4 linked regions of the Homo sapiens genome follow. The protein of the gene in region 2 purifies or fractionates together with the protein of the main gene of each other region. This does not show direct contact. Each region holds a gene or a part of one and is shown on either strand. Other genes may lie near its edges. The genes, in order: FBXO7, CUL1, CHEK1 and FBXL12.

Region 1 (7,575 bases), on a different chromosome or scaffold from region 2:
CTTCCACTTCTCCGGCATGGACAGTGCTTTGGCTTCGGTGCCCTGGGGAACGAAATGAAAGGGAAACAAATAATGAAGAAAGGTGTTACTCTCAAAAAGATTAAAAATCCAAAAGACTCCTAACTTGTTTGAAATAATCACTCCACACAGTCCTCTTAATAAAATGCATCAAATCATTAACATTGCCAATATATTTTATATTGTAGGATAACCATATTGTATAAGATAATATATTAGAACACTTTTAATCAAAATTTTTGTTCAAATAGGTAAAACTGCATCATGGAAACAGGGATTGATCTCTCTCTTCAAAGACTCACTTCTCTCCTAGCAAAGCCATATGATTATTTAAAACTCCGGCTCAAATATCACTTCCTCCGTAAAGCCTTTTTCAAAGAAAAATTGTTTGCCATTTCCTTTCATCCCCTAGCATTCTATTCATATTTCCATTACACTTCAATTGTATTATTATCTATGTTTACCTGTGTTATTTCTGAGTATCTTTTTATTCATCTCTCTCCTCTATGTATGGACTCCTTGAAGACAAGAAATATCCCAATATTTTTATATCCTAATTTCTAGGTCAGTGCATGGCATGCTGCAGGTGTGCACTGATCACCGAACTACTCTGTATCTTTGTAACTTATAACATGGCTCACAGACCAGCAACATTGGTATTATGCAGGAGTATGAAGAAGTTCACGGTCCATTCTACAGTTACTAAATCAGAATCTGCATTTTAATAAGGTCCCCAGGTATTCCAAAGCGCATTAAAGTTTGAGAAGCAATATTCTAAATGTTCTCCTCCATGAATTCCTGGCATCCTATATATGAGTATGTTTCTCCCAGAACTTCACCAATATAGCACAGTGCTTTATATTTTTGTCTCTCTCTGCCACTCTCAGACTACGGGCAACTTGAGAGCAGGAACCATCCACATGTATGAGCAATCATAAGATGTCTGTGTTTTGCTTGCAGTACTTACCTGAGGTATGTAACCTGACTCCAACATGAGAAGATGTATCAACACTATCAAGGCATCATTGGCATCAGAACAGTCAGCTGATTGATACAAGGTCTCTAATGAATGTGGCACTTGCCCTTCCACCGATTCACTACAGAGCATGGGTTCTGAGGGATAGAAACCTGTGCCCTCTGCCATATGCGCATTATCTTGAATTGACTCAGCTTCAAAATTTTGACTAGGCCCTAACTGAAAAAGGAAAACAAAACAATGAATTAATTAAAGACTTATTTTTACACTATACATTTTTGTATCCTAAAGTGAACTAAGTGCTGAAAGTCAAAGTACATCATTGGGTTCAGAAATGGGAGACATTTTAAGTGAGTCCTTACAAATAAATAAGCCTGCGACCTACTCTTCCATCCTGAATTCCTTACCTCTGTTAATTCTAGCTGGTATGTCAAGAACCTGGAAATCATCCTAGACTCCTCCCTCCCTAACTAAACCTTGTTCCACATCTGATCAGTCTTCAAAGTTCCCTGAAACTAACTCCTAAATATGTCTAAAATTTGCCCCTTCCTGCTCTATTGGCACTTCAAACTCTCATCATTTATTTCCCGACATCCAGCAAGAGCTTCCGTTGCAAGTATCCCTTCTTCAACTTTCTTGTCTTCCAATACACCCCAGTCCCTGCTGCCAGAATTTTCTTGACAATTAAAAATCTGATCATGTACTATGTCGCAGCTTAAAATTCACCAGTACCTCCCCAACATAAACAGCATTTCCCTCAATTGTGCCTTAGATGTTCTTAGGAAAAAAGGTGGTGCACACGGAATAAGTGTGGAAAATACTGCATGCTGCAGCCACCTAACTTCACCCTCCATATTCACAAAATACACTATTCGCATTATATAAGCACTGAGGAGTCTAATAACAATAATAGTGTGTGCCTAACACTTTACCAAAAAACACTATCCTCCGTCCTCAGCAGTCAACATCCCTGTGACACCATCTCATGAAACTAGATTTTCAGAGGACACTGAGAAATGCAGGTCTACAAATGAAGACCAAACTTCTAAATCCCTTAGCATACAAAGTCCTTCATTACCTGATCTCTGACTCATTATCAAGTTCACTTTCTGCCAGTGCCTTCTTACTCATCCCAGTATTTTCCACTTCTTCAAAAGAGGTAACACAGACCACAACTCTGCCTTGCAACGGGCTTGATTACTGCACCTTATCACACTGCACTGTATTGCAATTTTCTGATTACATATCTGCATCCTTCCATGACTGCAAGTTTATAAAAAACCAGACTACATGTCACCCATTTTTGTAACCCCAGTAAAGTACCTAGCACATAGCAGGTATTCAATGTTTGCTGAACAAATGCTGAAGGATAATACCTTACAACTTCATAATGTCTTTATTTTCAAAATGTTTTCTTATTTGCACTTTATAACAATCCTATAAAATAGGCATGGCAGGTATCGCCTTTTTATAGATCCTATAATTATAAATCAGAAAGATTAAATAACATAATCAAGGTTACCAGCTAATAAAAATTTGAAACGAACCCAGATCTCTAAACTTGCAGTTCAGGGCTTTGAGATGTAATACATGGCTTCAAAAAAAACTAAGTTACCTATATTAAGTTTGCTCAGAAAGCTTGTTTCCTAGGCATATGCCCAACTCTTAATGCAAAGCATACGTTTCGTCTTTTTAGGGTTTGTTTAAAGAAGGGGCAAAGGAAATTAAAATTACACAGTATATGTAAAAGGTTGGAGAAATGGAGGGGAGCCGGAGGTGACAGCTGTTCTTCCAAAATCTCTGAGGACCTAAGCCCTAGGGCTTATGGAAAAGATCCAAAGTCACCTGTTAAAACCTAAAGGCCAATGACAAGTCACATTACCCAAAAAGGAGGTATGGCACAAAAATATTTCCATATTTCCTAAGAAAACAGAAACAACTACATTAAAAACCACTTAACATCAAGCTAAACTATGAAACATAGGTTTTGCTTCTTTACCACTATGTCTAACTTTTGGCCATTTACTACTTATTGGCAGTTGTGTGGGACAGAATATATGAGGAAAAATGAAAAAGGGTACCCTAGGCTGAGTACATGAGAGGGAGATATCAAAATCCCCTGCTGGGCTTGTCAAGCCTTACTACTACTCCATAAGAACCACTGACATTCTCTGAGCTATTCTGATATGAATATTTATCAAATTCTTCACATGTGTAAAAATGAAAAAAAAAAGGTGAGCACCACACCTCTCTAAACAGATCATTTTGCCATATGTCATTTACAAAAGACTAAAACAAGTGACTAAGATGCATGAGAGCTAATATTAGGTTCTGATACCTGCTACCCGTTTCTCATTAAAGACTCAAGAGGCACTCGATGAATTCCCAAATATGATGAAATAAGAAAACTGATATTTAATTACAAGAGTAAATTTACCTCCTATGGTTTCAAGTTTTACGCATCTATTTTCCTTTTCTAATGCTCCATTCTACATTACAGAGTGTGATGTACTTGAAAGCATTATTTATGAGATCTTGAGCTCAGTTTCCATACTCTAAAGATTTTCCTGTCACCCTTTACAAGTCTTGGAATACAAAACAATATGCAAAATCTTAGAACTGAAATTAGTAACTTCAGGCAACATTAATTTCTCAAAATTTTCCAAAAGGAAACTAGCAAACTATCACAAATACTGTGAAAAGCTTCATCTTACTAGACAACTTTAAAAGTACACAGAAGTAAAAGTAATGGCCCCTACTAAGTCATCCCAGAACAAGTCTATCAGCAAAAAAGACTCAGAAATATAATTTAAATATACAGCGAAATATTCTTACTCATTCCCCAGTTTACCTCTATGAGGCAGAAACACACAGATAAAACAATAACTTTAAAAATAAATTAAAATCCACATATCTGGACATAATTTTCACAATTTACCAATCTATTAAAAAGTATTTTTTAATATGTCTATACTTAATGCCATGACAAGTTACCATGAATACTTATACTCAAAAATGTTTAAGGCCAGCAATTAAATTGAGGTGATAAGCATACATACAAAAACCAATTAACAAGAAGGCATGTGTATTGGTATTAAAAAAATAAAGGTGATCATTTGCACCATTCAAAAAATTAAAAGGGCGGATAAAGGCCAGGCACGGTGGCTCACATCTGTAATCCCATTACTTTGGGTGGCCAAGGTGGGCAGGTCACTTGAGGTCAGGAGTTCAAGACCAGCCTGAGCAACATGGTGAAACCCCATCTCTACCAAAAATACAAAAATTAGCCAGGCGTGGTGGTGTCTGTGGTCCCAACTACTCGGGAGGCTGAGGTGGGAGAATCGCTTGACCCCGGAAGGGTAGGGTTGCAGTGAGCTGAGATTGTGCCACTGCACTCCAGCCTGGGTGAGGGAGTGGGATCCTGTCACCAAAAAAAAAAAAGGTGGGAAAAATGAGGAGGCATGTACAAGGCAATAAAGATAATCAGATAATCAATACAAAGAAATTAAAGAAAACTATTGGGCTATGGTTGGCAAGGGCTTAGGAAGATGGGTAGAAATATAGACTAGAGAGGGAGGAAAGGTAACAGGTTCCAGTCTGGGTGAACAGCAAGAGCAAAGTCACAAAAGTAGTCACCAGGTTGTGTGTGTGCACATGCATGCAAGCAGGTGAATGTGCTGGTTGGTGGGGGCGGGGGAAAATGATGGGTCTGTTCTGATTGGAGATGACAGTTTAAAGGAAGGAAGAACAGAAACTAGCCCTAAAAAAGTTGAGTGGAGTAACTTTTCAGAAAGCCTTGAGCACTAGGTACAGGAGGACAGACACCATTTTCCTCTTCTGTAAAATGACAGGGTTGAACTAGAGATATATTGTCTTTTTCAGCTCAAAAATTATGAGCACAAGTTTATGAGATAGAGTTATGAAAGACAGCAAGGGAACAATAGCATCAGAACCATGTAGGAAGAAGGCAAATCCAGAAAACAGACTGAGGAATAAAGCCATGGAACCCGAAATGGAAAAGAAGAACTGACAAAGCTTATTAATGGGCTAGATTTAAGGAGTCAAAAATCACAGAAAACCAGCAGTGCCACTGACAAAGAAGGGAACTGAGCACACATATTTCCAAATTTATGTTCAACATCTAAAGTCTGCAATGACAATTTAAAATCCAGGTATAAATATCCTGCAAGTCATCTGGAAATAATTAGACCACATCTATAGCCTTAATGAGCGGACCAGATCAGAGAAGCAAGGCTAGGAATCATGAGCTTAGGAACAATAATAGAAGTCAAGGAATAACTGATCTGAAGGAGAGTATGTGAACAAAACAGACAGACACTAGGTACTTTGGGATGCCAGCCCCATATTGGTACAGGCATTTGGCAGTTAAAAAAAATATATTCTATAAAAATATAATCTGCAGCCAGGCGCAGTGGCTCATGCCTGTAATCCCAGCACTTTGGGAGGCCGAGGAGGGCAGATCACGAGGTCAAGAGATCGAGACCATCCTGACCAACATGCTGAAACCCCGTCTCTACTAAAAATACAAAAATTAGCTGGGCGTGGTGGTGTGCACCTCTAGTCCCAGCTACTCGGGAGGCTGAGGCAGGAGAATCGCTTGAACTGGGAGGCAGAGGTTGCAGTGAGCAGAGATTGCGCCACTGCACTCCAGCCTGGTGACAGAGTGAGACTCTGTCTCAAAAAAAAAAAAAAAGAAAAAAATATATATAAAATGTGCAATCTATCGATGATAATTATCCTGACTGGAACAGAATTCAACTGAGGTGTTCAATATGACTTATCACCTACTCTATTTGATATATTGGTGTTTAATACCCACCATACTGTCGTCATTCCAAACACCAGACTGGGCTGCCTGTCCTTGGAATGAATCACTTGGTTGTTCATCCTGCATGCTAGTCTGATTGGAGCTGGTGGCCAAAGAGGGTTGCTCATTATTCTGGAGTGAAGAATGCTCTGAATCTGTGGATGAAGGTATATTAGGCGCTGGAATGTCATCTTGAAGAATCAAACATATCAAGTCCCCAGAAACAATCCCATATGAAGCCAAGGTCTCTTCATCTCCAGTGAGGGGATCCTTGTAGTTCAATGTAATTGTAAATCGGGTATTAGAACTGCCAAGAAAGACAGATAAGCATAGTAAGAACTACCTACTTCTAATACCTTCAATAGCACATCTGAAGCATACATAAGTACACAGTATGACCCTAGAAGAACTAAGTGATGAAGAGACAAGGTCTCACTATGTTGTCCAGGCTGGTCTCAAGCTCCTGGCCTCAAGCAATCCTCCTGCCTCAGCCTCCTGGGTTGCTGGGATTACAGGTATAAGCCACCATGTCCAGCTACATTTTTGTTTTTGTTTTCGTTTGTTTTTAGAGACAGAGTCTCACTCTGTTGCCCAGGCTGGAGTGAAGTGGCACAATCACAGCTCATGGCAGCCTCAAATTCCTGGGCTCAAGCAATCCTCTCACCTCAGCCTCCAGAGGAGCTAGGACTATAGGCACGCATTACCCTATCAAGCTTATAGTTTTGAGAAAATTATCAAAAGTATTTATCAATGAATGCCTAATCTATAGATTTCTAATGGCTAAAACTCTCCACCTGGGGGACGGGATACAGTAATCCTCTATCACTAATCCATGCTTTCCTCAATTCTAAGATGCACAAATTTTTTTTGACATCTTTGAAATTAAGATACTTCCTAAAATCAATGACATATCAATTGACAGCATTTTCCCCTGCTGTTACATAAAACAATATGTCTTACAAGTGACAGCAACTAAGATTCAGTGAAATACCTTTAAAATACAAATTAGATCACATCATTCCTTCACTTAAAATCTTCCAATAGCTTCTATTTGGAATCCTTAACCTAACTTCCAAAGCTCAACGTCTGACCTCTTCCCATTTCTCCTACTGCATCCTGTGCCATCCATCCTCTCTCACTGTTCTCTATTCACATGAGCTTTCCATCCGTTCCAAAAAGCAGATCAACTTCATTGCAGCCTTCGGGCCTCTCCGTTTGTTCTTCCAGATCTTCAAATGACTGACTCCTCTTCATCATTCCAGTCTCAGCCCAAATGTCACCTCTTCAGAGATGCCTTTCATTCAGACTCCAGCGCTCTCTATTCTGTTATGTTCTACTTGAAAACATCGTATTTACTTGTCTATGATCTGTCTACCCTACCTCTGCCACTACAACTTAAGTTTCATAAGATCAGCGATCTTGTCTGAACAGTTCAAACCATATCTTCAACACTGGCAAATAAAGTACTTGTGAAATAAATGCAACCACCAAACACTAGTTGGGAAGATCAAGAGATGAGCGTGAAATCAAGGATGTCTATTCAATATCCTTACAGGACAGTTTACTTATAATGGTTCCGAAAAACCAGATCCATATATTCATAATCACAAAAAGTTAGAGGAGTATTATGTATATGACTGAGTATAAATTCATCTCTCTTACTGATGATGACAAGCTAAATTCACCCTTCTACTGATCATCAGTTATGATGCCTTTTAGTGGAACATAGCGCAAACCCAAAAGCCCACGTTAA
Region 2 (7,575 bases):
TGCCTGGCTCAACAATGAGTTTTAACATGAAGCTTTTTGTAGTGCGTATTAAAATCCTGGAATAAGGCCATATTCATATTCATGAGGCAAACATCTATTTCAAATTAAAGATGCCCATATCCTCTTCCTTATCTTTCCTAACAATATCCACGAGAACAAGGAAACGGCAAGCTGATAGAACAACGAGCCTGAGATGAGAATACCATTTTAATTTGAGTGCTGTCGGTCAGCTGCTGCACAGTGTAGGCATCTTCCGTGTTGTACTGAAGCAGGATAGCCATCTGGAATGTCGACGCCTTTGCGGCCCCCCATATAAAAGAAAAAGAAGGAAAATTTACATGCATGGAAACACCTCCCAAAATATACAGCCCAAGTTTGAAGAACTTATTTATGAAACAAATTCTTTAAACAAGTACAAAAAAAGCACAGATCTATTTAAAAGGGAATATAAAACGTGGCAATGCCACTACAATGCAACATTTTCCCAAAGTCATTCATTTTCCATGTTTACAAACATTAAAATAATTTGAGGGTTTTTTTTAAAAAACGTATTGTCTATGTGGATACATACTATAGATACGTCCCCACGCATTTATAGAGACAATCACATATACACACACCTGGTATATATGGACATGTTAAGCATCAATCTCCAAATCTGTTTTTGGCACATGAGCTAAGGAATATTATCTTTTGGCACATTATTGATGTAAAACAACACAAATATCAAATTATATTTGGTTTTCTAATCCTAAGTACTTTACTATGAAAGTATGAAAAAAGTAAGTAAAGTATGAAATGGCAAGTGTACTAAATTTCTATTTTTTTTTTTTTTTGAGACAAAGTCTTGCTCTGTCACCCAGGCTGGAGTGCAGTGGCACAATCTCGACTCACTGCAACCTCCGCCTCCCAGGTTCAAGGGATTCTCCTGCCTTGGCCTCCAGAGTAGCTGGGGCTATAGGCGTGCACCACCACACCCAGCTAATTTTTGTATTTTAGTAGAGATGGGGTTTCGCCATGCTGGCCAGGCTGGTCTCGAACTCCTGACCTTGTGATCTGCCTGCCTTGGCCTCCCAAAGTGCTAGGATTACAGGCTGAGCCACTGCACCCGGCCCTAAAGTATCTTCTAAAAGACAGGTAGCACGTGTTGGTTCCTGATTGCTGAGTGTGTGCAAGCGAATGAACACCCCGAGGACGCCTTCCTTCTCTTCTCCCTGTTTTCTTGCATAATCGACAGCAACAAGTAATGACCCATGACTGTCAGTCACTGCTTGCCTCTCGGCAAGACCTTGGTCAATGGAAAGAGAAACAAAAAACGCCACATGCCTGTTTCAGGGCGGCCCACAGACAACACTGCTTCCAGGGCCTTGAACAGAGATACAAGGGAACGAGCGTGTTGCTAATGTTTTCTATTGGGCCCGCTCCGGGCTGCCTTAACACGGCAGACACACCCTAGGCAAAGCCTCCACCGTCAAAAACTGGACACTGAAATTCCAGGTACTGTAGTGGAACACATGGATTCTTCTATGTATATTTGGGGATAAATGAAACAAAATTTCAATTGTATAGTAAGAAACATTCAAGTTGATAAAGACCTCTGGAGCCAGCATAATACTATGCATTTTAACAATTTTAAGTCACAGTAGATTTACGAAAAGTTTAAATTAATGAGCAGCTTGAGTCTGCAGAACAACCCATTCTGGAGTTTCTTAATACTTAAACACAGATTTGCAATTCTTCTTAGAAACTCACTGGTGAAAACTTCTCAGAGACTAAAATATGCCATTACTTGTGAAGACCACTCAGTACAAAAGTGGAAGTAGAAAGAGCTTGGACTTTTTTTTCTTTTTACTTTAAAAAATATCTAGAGATGGGGTCTTGCTATGTTGTCCAGGCTTGTCTCAAACTCCTAGCCTCAAGTGATTCTCTGGTCTCAGCCTCCCAAAGCGTGAGGATTACAAGCGTGAGCCACCACACCAGCCCAAGCCTAGACTTTAAGAGAAAAGACTTTAACTGAAATTTTGGCTCAGCTACATATAAGCTAGGATTCAGAGAAATTCACTTAAATTAACCCAAGCCTCAGTTTTCTCCTCTAAGAAATGGAAATATTCTTAGTTACATAGGTATAAATTAGGTTGTACTCAATATTGTTGTCAGCACTGAGTGTTATTAATGTGAAAGTGCTCTGTGTAAGGTGGAGAGCTGATATAATGAAATGCATGCAACTCCAGCTTTTGAAGTCACTACCTGAACAGCTGATGTGTGTCAGGCAGGAGCGGTGCCAAACACTTACTAAATACATTATTTAATTTTCACATCAATTCCCAACTATAAAGTACTAACACTCCCATTAATGGAGGAGAAAACTGAGGCTCACAATCATTAAATAACTTGCTCCCCAGCCAGAAAGAATTGGAATTTGGTTCATCTGATTCTTACAACTCCATGCTTTAAACCTGCCACTATTTCACCAGAAGCTGAATTCTAGATTCTGCTGCTGAGTCAGCTGATAATGATTTCCATAATTTGCCTTATGTTCATTTAGAATAGAAAAATTTTAAGATAAAAATGTGATCTTACCTGCAAAGTATATCTGTTTTTGAAGCAGTTAGTTACCAATTCTCCTTTAGACAACTGATATAACCACGTCAATTTTCGGCCACTGTGGCGGCTGGCGTAGAAAGCTGTGAATCGCTGATAACTACGTTCCAACTAGATAAAAGGACAGCATTATATGGAATACAGATCTCACCACATCCTACAGGCAGCGTTTCTAAGTAAAGCCCACTGTTCCAAGCTTACAGTACAAAGTCAGTGCTTACATAAAAGTAAAATACAAACGCCAGGTGTCTGCCTCTCTTGTAAAGCACTTTAAGCACTGGAAGGTACAATCTTAAAAAAGGTTTGTACTTCAAGACCAGCAGGTCCATCGAGGTGTTCATTACACAACTAATTAGGTTCTGCTTTACAAGATAAGGAAACATGTCTGTAGAGCTGGGACAGACAGCCCACCTTTAGACATCCAGACCTGCCCCACTGCACAGGGCTCTTCCCTGAGTGTTGCCCCCATGGTTCACCGTGATGCAGCCAGCCAGCAGGAAGGCCATCTGCAGGCCTGTCCCCTTCCACAGTGAAGGCTGCCCTGCCCCACCCTCCACTTAGCACTAATGGGATGGCAGACAAACCCATCCTTACCTCTGACGGCAAGGCAAATGTACAAGACTGCTGGAAGGGCCAGGACCCGGAGCTCAGCACTTGAATGCTGAAATCCACTGTGGGACGGAAGAGAGGGGAGAGTGAACATTCTGGAATACATTAATTAGTTTATAAACTGAAAAATTCAATCATTTCAGATGAATGTGGATTGCTCTTTATTAAAAAGCACATTAAATAAAAATCCTGCTTGAATATAAAATTAAGAATTGAACATTTTATTCAATTAAAATTAGCAAAAAGTGCAAGAGCCAGATACTCTTTTCTTCCAAAGAGTGAGAGTCTTCATTTTGCTTCCACCTCGGAATTCTGCTGTCACACGCCTGCCCTGCTTCCCTTGCTTTCCTTTTCTGTCCTGAATCACTCAGTCCACTCAAGCCACGCCTGTGCTTGCCAGGCCCGGCATCATCACAGCCCCAGACTCATGCAAACTCACAAGCAGGAGAAAACCGCTAACTTCATTATAGTGTATGTTTCACTTATTACTGGGAAACGCCACACATGGTCTATAAATTATAACAGTAATTTCATCTTCGCAGATAGTTAAAAAGCCCACTGGCAAAACTGTCCAGTTTTACAATAGAATTGTCATTCTGATTTGGGAAAAATAAAATTCTCCATTTTTCATTTAAAAAGACAAAGATGATCAAAAGATGATGTAAGCATAAATCCGCCATCCTACTACTATGCAAGGCCCTAAAATACCAGCCCAGCTGCCTCTCCTGGAGAACTGAATCACCTGCACCTGCCTGTACTGATCCCTAATCCCAGTCTGAAGCCACAGGTCTTTAGCTTGACTGTTACCTATGCAGGCCAAGTGAACATTAAAATAAATGCTAGAATGGATCCAAGCTAAGGTTTACAAGACAAAACCACGCCTGTGAGTCCCTCCCCAGATCCCAACAGGTGGTGACCTTGCCCCAGTAGAGCTGACACCACTTCAAGGGTTGTCATCTCCTAATGTCACACGGGAGTCGGGGGAGGAGGGCTGGGCATTTGGGAGGAATCTCCCGCTTCTTAGTTCTTGAATTTCTGACAAAGCCCCTCCCATCTTCACCTAATATTTTGTCATTTCTTCATTTGCTACAGAGAACTCTGCCTGTAAACACAACATAGAGACACACGGATACTCACAGTCTAGGGGTTCTGAGTTTGTCAAGTGCTTTTTGAATTGCTCGTTCAGATCTTTGCTCACGCCAATGTCTTGAAACATGCGCTGAAGTTTAGAGGTGTACTCGAACCCGCAAGCTTGCTGAGAAGAACCCAGATGACTGTCTTATTAATTTGTACAAAAATACAAATGTATACAAGGGAATCTTAGAGAAATCAGAGTATACAATATATACTTAATTATATGGAACTACTAGCAAAGCTAGTAACATTTTGCTATATTTTACAGTACAAATATGCATGGATTAATATTAATACACTGTCAAAAAACCCCACAACTCTATGTTGCACAGTGAAGTGTTCACACACACAATTCATACACAATTTGTGAGCATTTAAGAGCAAGGTGTCCTGACACTGGTAGAATACAATGATGAAATAATCTGTCTCTATCTCTTACCAGAAGCTGAACTGTGTGCCCCCAAAATCCCTATGTTGAAGCCCAAACCTCCAACGTGATGCTGTGTGGAGGTATGCGGTCTTGAGCATGGGGCCTCACAATGGGATTGGTGTGCTTGTAAGAGATGTGCAAGAGCTCTGCACTCTCTCTCTGACACGTGAGGCACTGCAAGAAGGTGGCTGCCTACAAAGCAGGAAGAGGGCCTGCACCAGGAACCGAATCAGCTGGCACCCTGATCTCGGACTTGTGGCCCCCAGAATTGTGAGAAACTATTTCTGTTGTTTAAGCTACCTGGTCTATGGTATTCCGTCATGGCAGCCCACGCTGACAAAGATACCTACATAATTTGGGGCCAAAGTAAAGTATGTCCCAAGTCAGATAAGAGCACTCGACAGCGCCGACACACAGGCACGCAAAGGAGGTGGCAGAGGAAGGGCTGCGTGACAGCAAAGTAACCAAGCCCAGAGCAAACAAAACCTCCACTCAGCTCCAGGCCAGCACAGTGTGGAAGTGTGAATGTGCTGCAAGGCTAAAGGTGTGGGAGGCAGGAGAGGCCCCACAGATGGTGAGCTGAGCCCAGCCAGGCCTGGGTAGGATGGAAGCCCCACAGTGGGGTGGGGAAGGGGTTGGGAAGGCACCGGGGCCCAACGAGAGTAGAGTGATAGTTGTGGGAGGCTTTCAGAAGAGCAGTGGCAGAGCTTCTTGTACAAACCACTGCACAAACTCCTCTGCCTGCCTCATAACCTGGAGAGACTAAGAGCTTTTTTATTTTTTTCTGAGACAGAGTCTCACTCTGTTGCCCAGGCTGGAGTGTAGTGGTGTGATCTCGGCTCACCGCAACCTCTGCCTCCCGGGTTCATGCCATTCTCCTGCCTCAGCCTCCCAAGTAGCTGGGACTACAGGCGCCCACCACCATGCCCGGCTAATGTTTTGTATTTTTAGCAGAGATGGGGTTTCTCCATATTAGCCAGGATGGTCTCGATCTCCTGACCTCGTGATCTGCCCGCCTCGGCCTCCCAAAGTGCTGGGATTACAGGCATGAGCCACCGCGCTCGGCCATAGAGCTGTTTTAATAATGACTCAGAAGCTGGGATTTTTCAGGAAAAGATGAAACTCACCTTTAACTTGGAGATCATGCTGGCTTCGGCATCGTCACTTGCACTGTTCTGGTGGACGAGCCTCTTGGCGAGCATCTTCGCATAGAACTTCTGAAATACGTCTTTGTCTTCTATGTACTTGAAGACAACCATCTGGCAAAGCCACCGAGACAACACACTTAACCAGCACACACACAAGCCAACAGTGCAGAGCTGACTGTCACCGGCCACAAGCCAGGAGCCAAGATGTGCCTTTGGCTTTGGGCAGGTCTGTACGCCAACGTTTATGATGGCAAAATCTCCACTCCAGAGTCTTGAAAGTTTTGTGAGTCCCTTAATTCAGTGAGTTGGACTGACTGAGTATTAATGAGAAAAGTATGAATGCTAAAAGTAGTAACTCAATTTAGGAAGTAAAACCAGAGATTCAAAATAAAATCAATGATTATTACTTTTCACATTTCAGAGGCCATCTACAAATAACATTACAAACAGCTTGTGAAATACACAGCTACTGGAAATGGGTATGCTCATGAAGCACTTACCACTTGATTGAGTGTGTCTTCTAGTTCTGCCTCCTCTGGGTTCTTGGAACTGAAAATTTTAAAAAGATACCATGTTTTAAAACATCAGTACGTTTAAACAAGCACCACTTAGCCAGAATGCAGCTTCAAGCATTCAAAAGATCAGTTCTCATCAGATTAGTGCAGAGGAAGAGGGAAGGTTGACTTTCCTTACCTACAGCAAACTGGCAATCTCATACTGTAACCTCAACACTGAAGAACAGATTATGAAGTAGTCATTTAGAATATCCAAGGTGAAAACCAACAGGAGATATTTATAAAACATTTCCAAAAACATTCTGAAGAAGTTTGCCTTTAAGATAATCCACTTAAACTTCAGTAAAGGAAATTCACTTTACCAATTGCTTTCTAGTCTGCTGTAATTTAACTTTGGAGAAATAAAAAGGCACATAGATTCCCTTTCATGGCCCAGTCATTAAAGATGATGAAGGGGTTTAAATTCCTACTAAACTGCTGCCCTCTGTAGTTGTATATACAAGAGATGATTGTCCTTTAACAACTGATTCATTCTATGAACAAATAATAATTCAAAGGTGAATTAAAGGTAGATGAATTTTTGTACAGGTCTTTTCTACAAGACTGCTTTATAAACAAGACCCCCTAATTCATATAAAACGAATCAGCCACCACAGAAACTCTGAAGAGGTGTCTCCAACTTTAGAAAAGTTGGTTCAGAAAACCCAACCCTATTCTTGGCACTCTTGGGTCAGGGGTGTTCCTCTTCCCTTGGAGCAGTTTAACTTAGTGCCTCCCTGACTCCACTCACCCAACACACGCTCATTAAAGAGGTGCTGTGGAAATGTCTCTGCCATTCTGTCTGCATCAGTGGCCTTAACTAGTATCAGTAGACTTGACGAGGGACATTTATGAAAAGACAAAGGATAAAAAGGACACTAAGGCCAGGTGTGGTGGCTCACACCTGTAATCCCAGCACTTTGGGAGGCTGAGGCGGGTGGATCACTTGAGGTCAGGAGTTCGAGACGAGCCTGGCCAACATGGTGAAACCCTGTCTCTACTAAAAAAAAAAAAAAAAAAAATTAGCCGGGTGTGGTGGCACGCCTGTAGTCCCAGCTGCTCAGGAGGCTAAGGCATGAGAATCACTTAAACTCAGGAG
Region 3 (7,575 bases), on a different chromosome or scaffold from region 2:
AACCTCAGTTCTGCTTTGCTCCCCCTTGGTCATATTGTTGTTCTTCTTATTGTTCTCCAAGTGCTCTAGGCACACTTCTACCTCACTGTTTTTGTAGTGACTGTTCCTATGTCTGAAAATGCTTTTTCCCATGGGACTTATTTGCATGTCTTATTCTCTTACTTTCTTTGGATATTGACTTCAGTGTCATCTTTCCAATAAGCCTTTCCTGGCCATGCTATTTAAAATGGTATCCTCTTCCCTCTAACACATTTCTTAAATTTTTAAAATTTTTACTCTCTTGTGGACATACGCAATCCAACACGTTTCTTCATTTTATTTTCCTTCAGTGTACTTACCACCATTTAGCTTACTGATTTTTAACTGTATTTGTATTTATTTTATGTTATTTTGTCTCTCCTCAGTAGAATGTAGGATTTAAAAGGTCAAGAGTTTTTTTTCTATTTTGCTCACTGCTGAATACCTGATACCTAGAATAATGCCTGGCACAGAGTAGACCTAATAAAATATCTGAATGAATGGATTAATAAATAAAAAGCAGGTTTAAAAAAAAACTTGAGCATGTTTAAAAAGAAACAAACTTAAGCATGTTTAAGTGGTTTGGGTACGGATCCTGTAGAGAGGAAGAGGCTGACAGTCTAAGAGAAAGGAAATAAATAACAGAGGATCAAGATCCCTAAGGAGGTAGAAGGGTATGGGCTCCAGAGCACAAGTAGAGAGATGAACATTTGATGGGAGAATGGAAGGGATGAAAAGATGTATAATAATACAAATAACTTAGCTTTGGTAGGGATAAGTTGATGTAGTTTCTGTCTAATGGCTTTATTTTTTCTCTGAAATGGGAGGTGGTAGTATAGGTACTGGATGGTAGTCTTGGGAATTACAGAAAAGTGTAGTTTTGAAATGATCCTTGTGGAGAAAAGGAAAGGAAACTAGAGAAACAAATATTATCTGGCAATATTGAGGTTTAGCTAGGGATTGTAACCATAAATTTACAGTGGCGTCATTTTCCATATAATATTCTTCTTTATAAAGCTTTTCCAAGGAATCAAAGAATGTTGGCTATAGCAGATTCATAATGTTTATTGCTATTATCATAAATTATTTTTTATTTTAAAAAGTTCTAGTCCTTTAGCCAGGTCTGTTGTCTTCATAGAACATTGTTCTGTTACCCATAAAAGATGCCATTAAGACTGTGGCCTGGGCCGGGCGCAGTGGCTCACGCCTGTAATCCCAGCACTTTGGGAGGCCGAGGCGGGTGGATCACGAGGTCAGGAGATCAACACCATCCTGGCTAACATGGTGAAACCCCATCTCTCCTAAAAATACAAAAAAAAAAAAAAAAAAAATTAGCTGGGCGTGGTGGCGGGTGCCTGTAGTCCCAGCTACTCAGGGGGCTGAGGCAGGAGAATGGCGTGAACCCTGGAGACAGAGCTTGTAGTGAGCCAAGATCGCGCCACTGCACTCCAGCCTGGGTGACAGAGCGAGACTCCGTCTCAAAAAAAGAAAAAAAAAAAGATTGTGGTCTGAGCATACTCCACACTTTGAACATGTCTACAGATCATACTTAGGTATTGTAAAATACCTAATTTGACAAATGAGTTTTAGTAATTTTATAACTTGGCCATATTTTTTATAAAATCATATAGGAAGACTTTGTTTTATATCTTACAAAAATTTTGTGTTAAATAAATAGATTTAGACATAGTTTTACTTCTTCAAGTTGCCAGTTGGGTTAATTTAAAAACATACTTGCATAGAAGACTTGAAAGCATTTGTATTTGTTTTCTTTTTTAGGGGCAAAAAGGCCCCGAGTCACTTCAGGTGGTGTGTCAGAGTCTCCCAGTGGATTTTCTAAGCACATTCAATCCAATTTGGACTTCTCTCCAGTAAACAGTGCTTCTAGGTAAGACTGATAAAGATTGAGTAGTTTTTGATTGTAGTATTCCCCATGAAGAATAATACATGTATGTGTTTTTTCATAATAATCGACATTAACATAATACTGTAAGCATGAGAACTTGTGTGTGATATAAGAAAGGCCTGATAGATTTTATTTTATTAAATGTATGTTTCTTTCTGTCTTAATGCCTCAGTGAAGAAAATGTGAAGTACTCCAGTTCTCAGCCAGAACCCCGCACAGGTCTTTCCTTATGGGATACCAGCCCCTCATACATTGATAAATTGGTACAAGGGATCAGCTTTTCCCAGCCCACATGTCCTGATCATATGCTTTTGAATAGTCAGTTACTTGGCACCCCAGGATCCTCACAGGTGAGGGAATTTAATTTTTTAAAAGTAATGGCAGCTCTTTATTTTTTATTGTCTTAAAGTCCTTTTTTAATGTGTAAATCTTAGATATATAACTTTTAAATCACATGTATTCTTTTTTGGTCAAGGAAGAAAGAGAGGAGGGAGGCCTTCATGCAAAATAATTTTAAGTCAGACTAAATAGCTATGATATTACTGTCTTTAGTCCTAATGGATTTATTCATTTGTCTTCTGTTTGACATGTAGAACCCCTGGCAGCGGTTGGTCAAAAGAATGACACGATTCTTTACCAAATTGGATGCAGACAAATCTTATCAATGCCTGAAAGAGACTTGTGAGAAGTTGGGCTATCAATGGAAGAAAAGTTGTATGAATCAGGTGTGTTTCATTGATTTTCATTATACCTTTTCCTGAAGAAGAATTTAAATATTTGAGTAAAAGCTATCATTAGTATATTTTTTAAATATAGGCTGTGGCTCACACCTGTAATCCCAGCTTTTTGGGAGGCTGGGGTGGGCGGATCACCTGAGGTCAGGGGTTCGAGACCAGCCTGGCCAACATGGTAAGACCCTGTCTCTACTAAAAGCACAAAAATTAGCCGGCCTGGTGGTGCATGGCTGTAATCCCAGCTTCTCGGGAGGCTGAGGCACGAGAATTGCTTGAACCTGGAAGACGGAAGTTGCAGTGAGCCGAGATCCTGCCAGTGCACTCCTGCGTGGCCAACAGAGTGAGACTGTCTCAAAGAAAACCAAACAAACATAAAAATACAAAGTAATTAGTTAATTTGAAAAAGAAACTATTTAAGTAAAATGTTCTTTACTTTAAGAAATAATACTTTTTTTTATTTTGTTTTATTTTTTAATTTTTAATTTTTAGCCACTGTGCCTGGCCTAAGAAATAATATTTCTTAAAAGACCTTTTTATTGTTATTAAAAATAGTAGGGAGCTGGAATCATTATCTTTGTAAAAACTATGTATACTTAAACTGTAGACAATAACAGTTGACTGCCTACTATGAAAGACGAATACATTAGCAATCCCACACTTTCTCCCATCTCCCTTGATTGCACCCGTCAATTTTTATTGTTTATATTATTAGAGCATAGTTATAACATTGGTATTCTAAACTGTCTTTAAGGCTTTTCAAAAAAAATGTTAATGTCAATGAAAGACAAATAGGGTAGCTGTTTTTTACTCAAGGAGACTAAAGAGGCCTGATAACTAAGTGCAAGTGCAATGCATGATCTTTCACTAGATCATGTATTTGAAAAAAACTATAACGGACATTATTGGAACAATTGGGGAAATTTGAATATGGACTGTATATTAATTAGGTAATGTTTTTGTATCAGCGTCAGATTTCTTGGGTGTGATAATACTGTGGTTTGTAGGAGAATGCCCTTGTTCAAAGGAGAACAAGTGTCAAAGCAAAGTTGAAGTGAAGTGATATTTTCATTCAGCTTAAAATTTAAAAAAATAAAGGGCAAACAACTACATAAAGGCCAATAAACACACACATATCTGGTAGATAAGGCCAATGAAGAGTATATGGTTATTTATTATACTCTTTTTTCAGTTTTTCTGTAGATTCGAGTTTTCAAAATTAAAAATTGGGGGAACTGTTACTGTGTAGAAATCTGAGGTCAGCCTGATAGTCTTCTCACTCACATAGGTGATTCACTTTCTTTCAGGTAGACTCAGAGATAAAATTTGCATAACATAAGAATCATCACTTTAACCATTTTAAAATGTAAAATGCAGTGCTTTTTAGTATATTCACAAGGTTGTGCAACCATCGCCCCTAATTCCAGAACATTGCATCACCACGGGGAAAAAAAAACAAAACACCTCTGTACCACCTAGAATCACTCTTTATTCCTTTCTTGCTCCATTCCCAGACAACCTCGAATCTACTTTCTGTCTTTAGGGATTGCCTTTTTGGACATTTTATATAAATGGAATCATATAACATGTAGTCCTTTGGGTCTGTCTGCTTTCATTTAGCACGTTTTCAAGGTTCATAGCATCTATCAGTACTTTATTCCTTTTTATGGCTGAATAATATTCTGTTGTGTGTATGTATTACATTTCGTTTATCCATTCATCCACTCATGGACATTTGGGTTGTTTCTACTTTTTCATCATTATGAATAATACTGCTGTGAACAATCTTGTACCAGTTTTTGTGTGACCATATGTTTTCAATTTCTTAGATATATATGGAGGAATAGAATTGTTGGAGCATATGGTAACTCTTCATTTAACTTTTTGAGAAACTGTGAAATGATTTTTCCAAAGCACCTGTACCATTTTACGTTCCCATCAGTAATGTAAGAGGGTTCCAATTTCTCTACAACCTTGCCAACACTTACTGCCTCCCCTTTTTGCTATGGCCATCCTAGTGTGTATGAAGTCTTATCTCATTTTGCTTTTGATTTTCATCTCTCTAAAGACTAATGATCTTGAGCATATTCTTATATGCTTATTGGCCATTTCTTTATAACAGTATCCGGATATTTTGTCCATGCTTTAACTGGCTTGTTTTTATTGTTGAGTTGTTAGAGTTCTTTTACATTCTGGACACTAGAACCTTGTCAGGTACCTGATTTGCAAATATTTTATCCCATTCTGTGGGAGAAAATTCCCCCATTCTTTTGTTTTCTTGTTAGTGTCGTTTGATGTACTCAAGTTTTAGATTTTGATGAATTCCAGTGGATCTATAATTTCTCTTTTGTTGCCTATGCTTTTAGTGTCAAATTTAAGAAACTGTTGCCTGATGTAAGATTGTAAAGATTTATACTTTATGCTTTCTTTTAGGAGTCCCAGCCTCCTAAGTAGCGGGGACTACAGTCTTAAAGTTTAGCTCTTATATTTAGGTCTTTGTCCATTTTGAGTTAATATTTGTATATAGTATGATGTAGGGTGCAAATTCAAATGTTTGTATGTGAATATTCAGATTCCAGCACCATTTGTTGAAGATATGTTTTACTATTAGATGGTCTTGGCACCTTTGTTGAAAATAAATAGGTCATAGATGTATGGGTTTATTTCTGGAATCTCAATTCTTTTTTTTTCCTTTTTTTTTTCTTCCCCTGTGGACTCAATTCTTTTATTTCATGGATCTATATGTCTGTGCTATGCCGTTACCACACTATGTTGATTACTGTAGCTTTATAGTGAATTTTGACATTAGAAAATATGAGTTGTCCAAGTTTGTTCTTTTTTTCAAGGTATTTTGGTTATTTGTGGCCCCTTGTTTTTCTGTCTTTTAGGATTATCTTATTTCTGCAAGAAAAAAATTTGGAATTTTAAAAGAGATTACATTGGGGAGTATTTCCATTTTAGTATATATTGAGTATTCTTTATTCAAGGTGCTTGGGACCAAAAGTTTTGTGGATTTTACATTTGTTTGGATTTTGGAATATTTGCATATGCATATTGAGATAACTTACAGATGGGACTCAAGTTGAAACATGAATAATTTTATTTATGCTTCATATATACCTGATACAGATAGCCTGAAGGTAATTTTATACAATGTTTTAAATAATTTTGTGCATGAAACAAAGTTTGTACATTGAACTATCAGAAAGCAAACCTGTCAGGTATGAAATTTTCAGTTTGTCACATGATGTCAGCACCTGAAAAGTTTTGGAGTTTGGAACATTTTGGATTTCAGATTTGAGATTAAGGATGCTAAACCTCTAATAGTAACTCTTCTAATCCAATAACATGGGGCCTTTTTTTTCCCATTTTTTTAGGGTCTTTAATTTCTTTCAAGAATATTTTGTAGTTTTCAGTGTTCAAGTCTTGCACTTCCTAGGTTAAATGTAATCCTGTTTATTCTTTTTTTTTTTATCCTGATGCTGATGTAAATGGAATTTTTTAAAATTTTATTTTCAAATTGTTCATTGCTATATGCAAATGAATTTTGTATATTGATCTTGTATCCTGAAAATTTGCTGAATTCATTAACTCCAGTAGTTTTTTTGACAAATTCTTTAGGTTTTTTAATATATTAAGATTACATTATTTGGCAGGGCGTGGTGGCTCACGCCTGTAATCCCAGCACTTTGGGAGGCCGTTGCGGGTGGATCATGAGGTCAAGCGTTTGAGACCTGCCTGGCCCACATAGTGAAACCCCGTCTCTACTAAAAATACAAAAAATTAGCTGGGCGTGGTTGCGGGCACCGGTAATCCCAGCTACTCGGGAGGCTGAGGCCGGAGAATCACTTGAACCTGGGAGGCGGAGGTTGCAGTGAGCCGAGATGACGCCACTGCACTCCAGCCTGGGCGACAGATCAAGACTCCGTCTCAAAAAAAAAAAAATTACATTGTTTATCAATAGAGATACAGGAAATTGTTTTACTTTTTTTTTTTTTTTTAACCCAGATGCCTTTTAATTCTTTTTGTTTAGTTGTCCTGGCTAGGACTTCCAACATTATGTTGAACAGAAATAGAGTCTTTGTCTTGTTCTTGATCTTAGGGTTAAGTTTCGAGTCTTTCAGCATTAAGTATGATGTTAGCTGTGGGGTTTTTGTTTTTATGGTGAAAGAGTATTGGATTTTGTCAAATGTTTTCTCCGTCTATTGAGATAATCATGTGGATTTTTTTTCCCTTTATTAATATAGCTTGACCTCCTGTGCCCAAGTGATCCTCTCATCTCAGCCTCCTAAGTAGCTGGGACTACAGGTGTACACTATCATACCCAGCTAACTTTTTAAAAATGTTTTTGTAGAGATGCAGTCTCTGTGTTTACCAGGCTGGCCTTGACCTTCTGGGCTCAAGTGATCCTCCTGAGTAGTGGGTACTACAGGTGTGCACCACCATGCCCAGCTAAATTGACAGTTTTCATCAGTCTGTTTATTTTGTCTAATGTTAGTATATCCACATCAGCTCACCAGCTATCTTGTGTATTTTCCTTTTTTTAGATGGAGTCTCACTATGTTGCCTAGGCTAGACTGTAGTGGCTACTTAAAGGCACGATCATAGTGCAATGCAGCCTCAAATTCCTGGGCTCAAGTGACCCTCCTGCCTTGGCCTCCCAAGTAGGTGGGACTGCAGGCATGTACCACCATACCCAGCTACCAGCTCTCTTTTGGTTATTGTTTCCATGGTCTATTTTTTTTTTCCTTTTCCTTTTAACCTATTTGTGTCTTTGAATCTAAAGTGCCTTAGCCAGGTGTCATGGCTGACACCTGTAATTCCAGCACTTTAGGAGGCTGAGGTGGGTAGATCACTTGAGGCCAGGAGTTTGAGACCAGCCTGGCCAACATGGTGAAACCCCATCTCTACTAAAAATAT
Region 4 (8,177 bases), on a different chromosome or scaffold from region 2:
ACTGCAACCTTTGCCTCCCGGGTTCAAGCGATTCTCCTGCCTCAGCCTCCCGAGTAGCTGGGATTACAAGCATGCGCCACCACGCATTTGTTGTATTTTTAGTAGAGATGGGGTTTCACCATGTTGGCCAGGCTGGTCTTGAACTCCTGACCTCAAGTGATCCGCCTGCCTTGGCCTCCCAAAGTGCTGGGATTATAGGCGTGAGCCACTGTGCCTGGCCCTGAACCTCAGTTCTTGGCTTCTGTGCACCAGCAGGCTCAAGACCATGTGGAAGCTGCCAAGACTTGGGGCTTCCACCCTCTGAAGCCACAGCCCGAGTTATACGTTGGCCCCTTTCAGCTACAGCTGGAGCAGCTAGGGCACAGGACACCAAGTCCCAGGGTGAACATAGCACAGGGACCCTGGGCCCCCAGGAAACCACTTTTTCCTCCTGGGCTTCCAGGCCTGAGATGGGAGGGGCTGCCGTGAAGGTCTCTGACATGGCCTGGAGACATTTTCCCCATGGTCCTAATTAGGTTCCTTGCTACTTATGCAAATTTCTGCATCTGGCTTGAATTTCTCCCTAGAAAATGGGTTTTTCTTTTCTATCACATAGTCAGGCTACAAATTTTCCAAACTTTTCTGCTCTGCTTCCCCTATAAAACTGAATACCTTTAACAGTACCCAAGTCACCTCTTGAATGCTTTGCCACTTAGAAATTTCTTCCACTAGATACCCTAAAACATCTTTCTCAAGTTCAAAGTTCCACAAATCTCTAGGGCAGGGGCAAAATGCCATCAGTCTCTCTGCTAAAACATAACAAGAGTCACCTTTACTCCAGTTCCCAACAAGTTTCTCATCTCCATCTGAGACCACCTCAGCCTGGACCTTATTGATCATACCACTATCAGCATTTTGGGCAAAGTCACTCAACAAGTCTCTAGGAAGTTCCAAACTTTCCCACATTTTCCTGTCTTCTTTTGAGCCCCCCATACTGTTCCAACCTCTGACTGTTACCCAGTTCCAAAGATGCTTCTACATTTTTGGGTATCTTTTCAGCAACGCCCCACTTACCGCTACCAATTTACAGTATTAGTCTGTTTTCACACTGCTGCTAAAGACATACCTGAGACTGGGAAGAAAAAGAGGTTTAATTGAACTTAAGTTCCACATGGCTGGGGAGGCCTCAAAATCATGGCGGGAGGTGAAAGGCGCTTCTTAACATGTTGATGGCAAAAGAAAATGAGAAAGAAGCAAAAAAGGAAACCCCTGATAAACCCATCAGATCTTGTGAGACTTATTCACTATCACAAGAATAGCATGGGAAAGACTGGCCCCATGATTCAATTACTTTCCCCGGGTCCCTCCCACAACACGTGGGAATTCTGGGAGATAGAATTCAAGTTGAGATTTGGGTGGGGACACAGCCAAACCATATCATGAACCAAGAGAGAAAGAAACATGTTTTAATGAATCTTCTCAGGCGGCTGAGGCAGGAAGATGGCTTGAGCCCAGGAGATGGAGGTTGCAGTATGTTATGATTTTGCCACTGCCTGGGTGACAGAGTGAGATCCATCTCAAAAAAATAAATTAGAAAAAGATAAACTGCAGAGCATAAATGTTATGGGCTACTTTTGACAGAGGAATCAAATCTTCCTTGCCAAATTTAGACCCGTGTGGGTCAGCAGAAATTGACTAGAAATAGTGGCCACCGAATGGTAACTCACAAGGGTAGCAGTTAAAGTTGGTAAAATTTTAAATGCACACAAAACCAATGGACGAATCAACTTTTCCTCGCAAAACCAACAACTAAGTTTCAACAACTGAGAAAAAGTTTCATATTATCAGGCCAGACACTGTGGCTCACACCTGTAATCCCAGCACTTTGGGAGACTGAGGTTGGGGGACAGCTTCAGTCCAGGAGTTCGAGACCATCCTGGGCAACATAGCAAGACTCTGTCCTTAAAAAAAGAACTTCAAAAGCAACTGTATTAAAGGGAGTTACAGATGGATATATACAGTAAAATTGTTTAAAAGTAGAACACTATCTAAATAGTAGAACAGCATTACCCGAAGTTCAGAAATACATTACTAACACTATAATTGTTTTTGGACACACACATATGAAGTAACGTAAAAGGAAGGGTGCAAATTCACTTTATAATAGCAATTATCTATGAAGACAGTTTCAAAAAGGGCAACAAATATATCTATAAATGTTTTGAGCCAGTTGCTGTGGCTCATGCCTGTAATCTGAACACTTTGGGAGGCTAAGTCGGGAGAATCACTTGAGCCCAGGAGTTCGAGACCAGCCTGGGCAGCATAGTGAGACTCCGTCTCTACAAAAAATAAAAAATTAGCAGGTGTAGTGGCGAGCGCCCGTGGTTCCAGCTACTCAGGAGGCTGATGCGAGAGGATCGCTTGAGCTTGGGAGGTCGAGGCTGCAATCGCACCACTGCACTCCAGCCTGAGCAGCAGAGCGAGACTCTGTCTCAAAAACAAAACAAAAACTTGATAACATAGTCATAAATTAGCATTTATCGAATGATAAATATGTGCCAGACTGTTCTAAGCCCTTTCCCTGCGTGATCTCAGTGAAGTCCCATAATAGCCCCGTGAGGCAGGTACTGTCCTTTATCCCCATTGCAGGGATGAGGAAATTGAGGCCCTGAGGTCGAAGAGGAGCTGGTAAGCGATGATGCCGAGATAGGCCCCGGATCGCCTGGCTCTAAATCCCCAGCCCGGGCCCCGACACACAGTCCCAGGGTGGGAGAGGTGGTCTTCGGGGTCCGGGCACCGCGACCGCGGCCCAGGCCCGCCCGGCCAGCTGCGCGTACCGTGTAGAGCGTCAGGTCGACATGTCGCCACAGCCACCGGTCGTCCACCAGCCTCTTCCAGCGGTGACAGACCCTGGGGGAGGGGACGCGCGGTTAGAACGACCCCAGCCCCGGGCCACATCGCATCTCCAGGTGCCAGCTGCGCCCTCCGCCCTGCCCTTCCCCCCGGAGGCGGGGCCGCACCTGGAGATGCGGATCCGGTCCCGTACCGGGAGGTAAGAGAAGATCTCGAGCAGGACCGAGTCCGGCAGTTCGACCAAAGTCGCCATGATCCCGCCGACACGCACTTCCGCTTCCGGTTAAAGAGACCCGAGGGGTCCTGGGGGCGCCGAGGCGGCTGACAGGGCGGCGGCCGCGACCTTCCCGTAGCCGGTCGAGAAATTTGACCTTCCTCTCGCTGGGAAGTGATTCGGTCCCAGGGCCGGACCAGCCGCGGATGGGGACCAGAAACCAGCCTGGAAAGCGTGGCTGAGGCAGTGAGAGGCTTGCGGGAGGTGGCTGAGGCGTGATTTGGCCGCGACTGGGAACTAAGACCAAGTCCAGAAGGCGGGGCTGGAGTGAGGCGAAGCTCGGAGGCGGGGCTAGAGACGAGGACCAAGTCCGGAAGGCGTGGCCGGGGTGGGGTGAGGATCGGAGGCGGGGCTAGAGACCAGGACCAAGTCCGGAAGGCGTGGCTGGGGTGGGGCGAGGATCGGAGGCGGGGCTAGAGACGGGGACCAAGTCCGGAAGGCGTGGCTGGGGAGGGGCGAGACCCGGGGACGGGGCTAGAGGCGAGGCCCAAGCCCGGAAGGCGTCGCTGGAGTTGGGCGAGGCTCAGGGGCGGAGCCAGAGAACGGAACCAAGTCCAGAAGGCGGGGCTGGGGCGCGGCTAGGGGGCGGGGCTAGAGACGAGGACCAAGTCCAGAAGGCGTGGCTGGGGTGGGGCGAGGATCAAGCCCGGAAGGCGCGGCTGGAGCGGGGCGAGGCCTAGGTGGGGCTGCAGACGAGAACCACGCCTTGGAGGCGTGGCTAGGGCGGGTAGAGGCTCGGACAACCGCTGGAAGGCGGGGCTGGGGCGGGGCGAGACCTTGGGGGCGGGGTTGACGACGAGGACCTAGCCGAGAGGTCGTGGTCTGGACGGAAACCAGGCTGCAGCAGGACCAGGCGCCAAGGGCGTGGCTGGGGAGCGATGGAGACGCTCGGAAGGTGGGGAGCGGGGGACGGAGACAGGGAGAAGACTACGCCATGAAGGCGTGGTTGAGGCGGGGCGAGGCCTGTGGGTCTGGCCCCGAGCGAATGGCTTGGTAGAGAGTCAGAGAACTCTATTTTTTTACTTAATGATGCTTCTTGATGTCTATGCACAAGGATAAATTTGTATTACTGGAATATCGTGGCCAAAGGACCTGTTGAATTTTTCACTTTCATTGATACTACAGATATTTTCTGAATTGGCAAGTCCACCAAGAAACTATAAAAATGTGTGTGTGCAATGGCTGCACACAGCAGCTTCCTTGGTAGTGTACGCAGCCTGTTGGTTGTATGGGTTGCTCTAAGGGACCTTGGAGACAGGCCTTTCCGATGGATGTTCATGTTTCTAACCTTGCACTACCACAATGTAGGCTCCAAACAGGCATGTGAGGTGCCTTTGGAAAGCCCCAGGGCACTGTGGCCAGGGTTGACATTGGCCAAGTTATCATGTCCATCCGCACCAAGCTGCAGAACAAGGAGCATGCGATTGAGGCCTTGCGCAGGGCCAAGTTCAAGTTTCCTGGCCGCCAGAAGATCTACATCTCAAAGAAGTGGGGCTTCACCAAGTTCAATGCTGATGAATTTGAAGACATGGTGGCTGAGAAGCGGCTCATCCCAGATGGCTGTGGGGTCAAGTACATCCCCAATCGTGGCCCTCTGGACAAGTGGCTGGCCCTGCACTCATGAGGGCTTCCAATGTGCTGCCCCCCCTATTAATACTCACCAATAAATTCTACTTCCTGTCCAAAAAAAAAAATGTGTGTGTGTGTGTGTGTGTGTGTGTGTGTATATATATATATATATATATATACACACACACACACACACGCACGCCTCCTGAAGCCAGGAGGCGGAGATTGCAGTGACCTGAGATCGCGCCACCACACTCCAGCCTGAGTGACAGAGCGAAACTCCGTCTCAAAAAAAAAAAAAAAGAATATGAAAGAGATTGTGGAGGTTGCAGTGAGCCCAGATCGCGCCACTGCACTCCAGCCTGTGCGACGGGTGCGAGACTCCATCTCAAAAAAAAAAAAAAATCATGTTACTGCAAAGGACATGATTTCATTATCTTTTTTTTTTTTTAAATTTGGGACAGGGTCTCTCTCTGTCACCCAGTCTGGAGTGCAGTGGCGAAATTATAGCTCACTGCAGCCTTAACCTCTGGGGCTCAAGTGATCCGATCCTTCCACCTCAGTCTCCCGAGTAGCTGGGACTGTAGGCACATGCCAACACGCCCGGCTAATTTTTGTTTTGTTTTTTGAGATGAAGTCTTGCTGCATCACCCAGGCTGGAGTGCAGTGGCACAATCTCGGCTCACTGCAACCTCCGCCTCCCAGGTTCAAGTGATTCTCCTGCCTCAGCCTCCCGAGTAGCTGGGACTACAGGCGCCCGCCACCATGTCCGGCTAATTTTTATGTTTTTAGTAGAGATCAGGTTTCACTATATTGGCCAGGCTGGTCTCAAACTTCTGACCTCAGGTGATCCACCTGCCTCAGCTTCCCAGAATGCTGGGATTACAGGTGTGAGCCACTGCGCCCGGCTAATTTTTGTATTTTTTTCTAGAGCCGGGGTTTTGCCATGTTGCTCAGGCTGGTCTTGAACTCCTGGGCTCAAGTTCTTCCTGCCTCAGCCTCCCAAAGTACTAGGATTACAGGCGTGAGCCACCACGCCCAGCTGATTGCATTTTTTTTATGGCTGCATTACGTGTGTCTTCTTGGCTTGTTGCCCTCCTATATCAGACTGAATTCTGGGGTGGCAGGTGGGACTTGTGCACCCCGGCCCTGCTGAGGTGCTCAGGTAATGGGGGGAGGAAACTCCTATGCCCCTCCCTCCACCCCTAAGATTATTTCCCTTCTTGTGAACTCTGGCAGGGGAAGGGGAGTGCCTCTAAGTTTGGCAGAACCCAGGTGTCCCTTCCCTGCCATCCCTACTCAGTTACAGGGGGTTCCTGCACCACCAGCATACAGGGCTGGAGAGAGGGAAGTAGTCAGGTGAGAGCAAAAGAAACCCACATACAAGCTCCTTCCTCTGGGCCAGGAACCCAAGAAGCAAGGGGGGAGAAGAAGCCTCCCCAGCTTGCTCCTTGGGTCTTGACCCAAAACTCTACCTCCTGGGAAGTATCCACCTCCCCCAAGGAAAAGCGGCTGTGAGAACAGCAGATCTTCCTACAGCAGGCTAGGTCTCCATGTGCAACCACAGCAGTGAGCCTTCACCAACACCTTGTGGTAGCTCTGATGAATACGTAAGTTAAATATTAAAGACCTGGAAAAACTGGGGCCTTCGAGCAAGGGCTAGAAGGTAAAACAAAGTCCTTAAGACCCTGCCTGGGTTTTCTCAGAACTTAAGAGTTCAGTTAAAATAATGGAGGCATTCTTACATACCTCGTAAACCTTGTACCAGGATCCACTTTATTTTTTAAAATTTACTTTCTTTTCTTTATTATTTTGAGACAGAGTTTCGCTCTTGTTGCCCAGGCTGGAGTGCAGTGGCACGATCTCGGCTCACTGCAACCTCCACCTCCCGGGTTCAAGCCATTCTCCTGCCTCAGCCTCCCGAGTTGCTGGGATTTAAGGCATGCGCCACCATGCCCAGCTAATTTTGTATTTTTAGTAGAGATGGGGTTTCACCATGTTGGTCAGACTGGTTTCGAACTCCTGACCTCAGGTGATAGCTGATCCGCCCACCTCGGCCTCCCAAAGTGGTGGGATTACAGGTGTGAGCCACTGTGCCCAGCCTTTTTTTTTTTTTTGAGAGAGTCCGACTCTGTCCCCCAGGCTGGAGTGTAGTGGTGTGATCTCGGCTCACTGCAACCTTTGCCTCCTGAGTTCAAGTGATTCTCCTGCCTCAGCCTCCCAGGTAGCTGAAACTACAGGTATGTGCCACCACACCTGGTTAATTTTTGTATTTTTAGTAGAGACAGGGTTTTGCCATGTTGCCCAGGCTGGTCTTGAACTCCTGACTTCAGGTGATCTACCACCTTGGTCTCCCAGTGTTGGGATTACAGGTGTGATGTAATGGCACCCGGCCCCATTTTCCTCTTCTCTCAGCAGCACTTCCCATCCCTTTCCCAACTCCTCGCCCCACAGCTCAGCACCAAGACCCTGTGCTTGGCAGATCTTTGAATCAAGCACTGAGAAATTAGAACATTTTGAAAAAGCAAACATTTCCTTTTCCACCCCCGGTGATTACAAAAGTAACATATGTTCTGTGTCAGAAATCTGGAAAAACACCACGAAGAGGGAAAATGAGGCCGGGTGTGGTCGCTCATGCCTGTAATTCCAGCACTTTGGGAGGATCACTTGAGGCCAGGAGTTTGAGACCAGCCAGGGCAACATAGTGAGACTGTCTCTCCAAAAATTAAAAAAATCAGCCAGGCGTGGTGGTGCACGCCTGAAGTCCCAGGAGGTGAGTCCCCTTGAGTCCAGGAATTGGAGGCTGCAGTGAGCTATAATTGTGCCACTGCACTCCAGCCTGGGTGACAGAGCAAGACACTGTCTCAAAAAAAAATTAAAAAATTAAAAAATTAAAAAAAAAAAAGAAGGGAGAATGAGACTCTCAGTAATCCTACCATGAAGTGGTAACTACAGTCAATGCTTGTGTGACCCTGCATTTCTTTGTTTTCAAACAGTCTCACTCTGTTGCCCAGGCTGGAGTGCAGTGGCATATCTCAGCTCACTGTGACCTCTGCCTCCTGGGTTCAAGCGATTCTCCTGCCTCAGCCTCCTGCGTAGCTAGGATTACAGACGCCTGCCACATTTTTGTATTTTTAGTAGAGATGGGGTTTCCCCAATTGGCCAGGCTGGTCTCGAACTCCTGACCTCAAGTGATCCACCCACCTTGGCCTCCCAAAGTGTTGGGATTATAGGTGTGAGCCACCGTGCCTGGCTGTGACCCAGGATTTCTAAGAGAATGCAAAGATGTGCTGCTTCTAAACTTCCTTAGGCACCTCAGCCCCCTCAGCTCACTTTTGACCTTCCAATCTGTTTCATCCCGGCTAGAGTCTCCCCAAAAGCAGAGGCAGGGGAATTCCCACAAAGGAATGCCCTAAATCATCCCAAGATGGGGCCAGTGGGGATTTCAAGAAAACACCAATTACCAGAGCAATCAGTCCAAAGCATTTATTAGGGAAACTTA

What was found.
Region 1: the proteins of CUL1 (region 2) and FBXO7 purify together in Homo sapiens (affinity purification with mass spectrometry; 15 studies listed by BioGRID and IntAct, with this or other methods). This does not show direct contact.
Region 3: the proteins of CUL1 (region 2) and CHEK1 purify together in Homo sapiens (affinity purification with western blotting; 6 studies listed by BioGRID and IntAct, with this or other methods). This does not show direct contact.
Region 4: the proteins of CUL1 (region 2) and FBXL12 purify together in Homo sapiens (affinity purification with western blotting; 8 studies listed by BioGRID and IntAct, with this or other methods). This does not show direct contact.

The regions. Positions count from the first base shown.
Region 1 is NC_000022.11:32,477,535-32,485,109, reverse strand, and holds part of FBXO7 (F-box only protein 7), read right to left. Parts: intron 6,130-7,575; coding exon 5,835-6,129; intron 1,214-5,834; coding exon 986-1,213; intron 43-985; coding exon 1-42. UniProt on the Homo sapiens protein: Substrate recognition component of a SCF (SKP1-CUL1-F-box protein) E3 ubiquitin-protein ligase complex which mediates the ubiquitination and subsequent proteasomal degradation of target proteins and plays a role in several biological processes such as cell cycle, cell proliferation, or maintenance of chromosome stability.
Region 2 is NC_000007.14:148,785,447-148,793,021, reverse strand, and holds part of CUL1 (cullin-1), read right to left. Parts: intron 6,472-7,575; coding exon 6,423-6,471; intron 6,034-6,422; coding exon 5,902-6,033; intron 4,466-5,901; coding exon 4,348-4,465; intron 3,273-4,347; coding exon 3,196-3,272; intron 2,713-3,195; coding exon 2,581-2,712; intron 297-2,580; coding exon 204-296; intron 1-203. UniProt on the Homo sapiens protein: Core component of multiple cullin-RING-based SCF (SKP1-CUL1-F-box protein) E3 ubiquitin-protein ligase complexes, which mediate the ubiquitination of proteins involved in cell cycle progression, signal transduction and transcription.
Region 3 is NC_000011.10:125,641,995-125,649,569, forward strand, and holds part of CHEK1 (serine/threonine-protein kinase Chk1), read left to right. Parts: intron 1-1,797; coding exon 1,798-1,906; intron 1,907-2,096; coding exon 2,097-2,274; intron 2,275-2,517; coding exon 2,518-2,649; intron 2,650-7,575. UniProt on the Homo sapiens protein: Serine/threonine-protein kinase which is required for checkpoint-mediated cell cycle arrest and activation of DNA repair in response to the presence of DNA damage or unreplicated DNA.
Region 4 is NC_000019.10:9,815,729-9,823,905, forward strand, and holds the start of FBXL12 (F-box/LRR-repeat protein 12), read right to left. Parts: upstream 3,352-8,177; 5' UTR 3,086-3,351; coding exon 3,000-3,085; intron 2,890-2,999; coding exon 2,817-2,889; exon of another isoform or gene 1-2,816. UniProt on the Homo sapiens protein: Substrate-recognition component of the SCF (SKP1-CUL1-F-box protein)-type E3 ubiquitin ligase complex.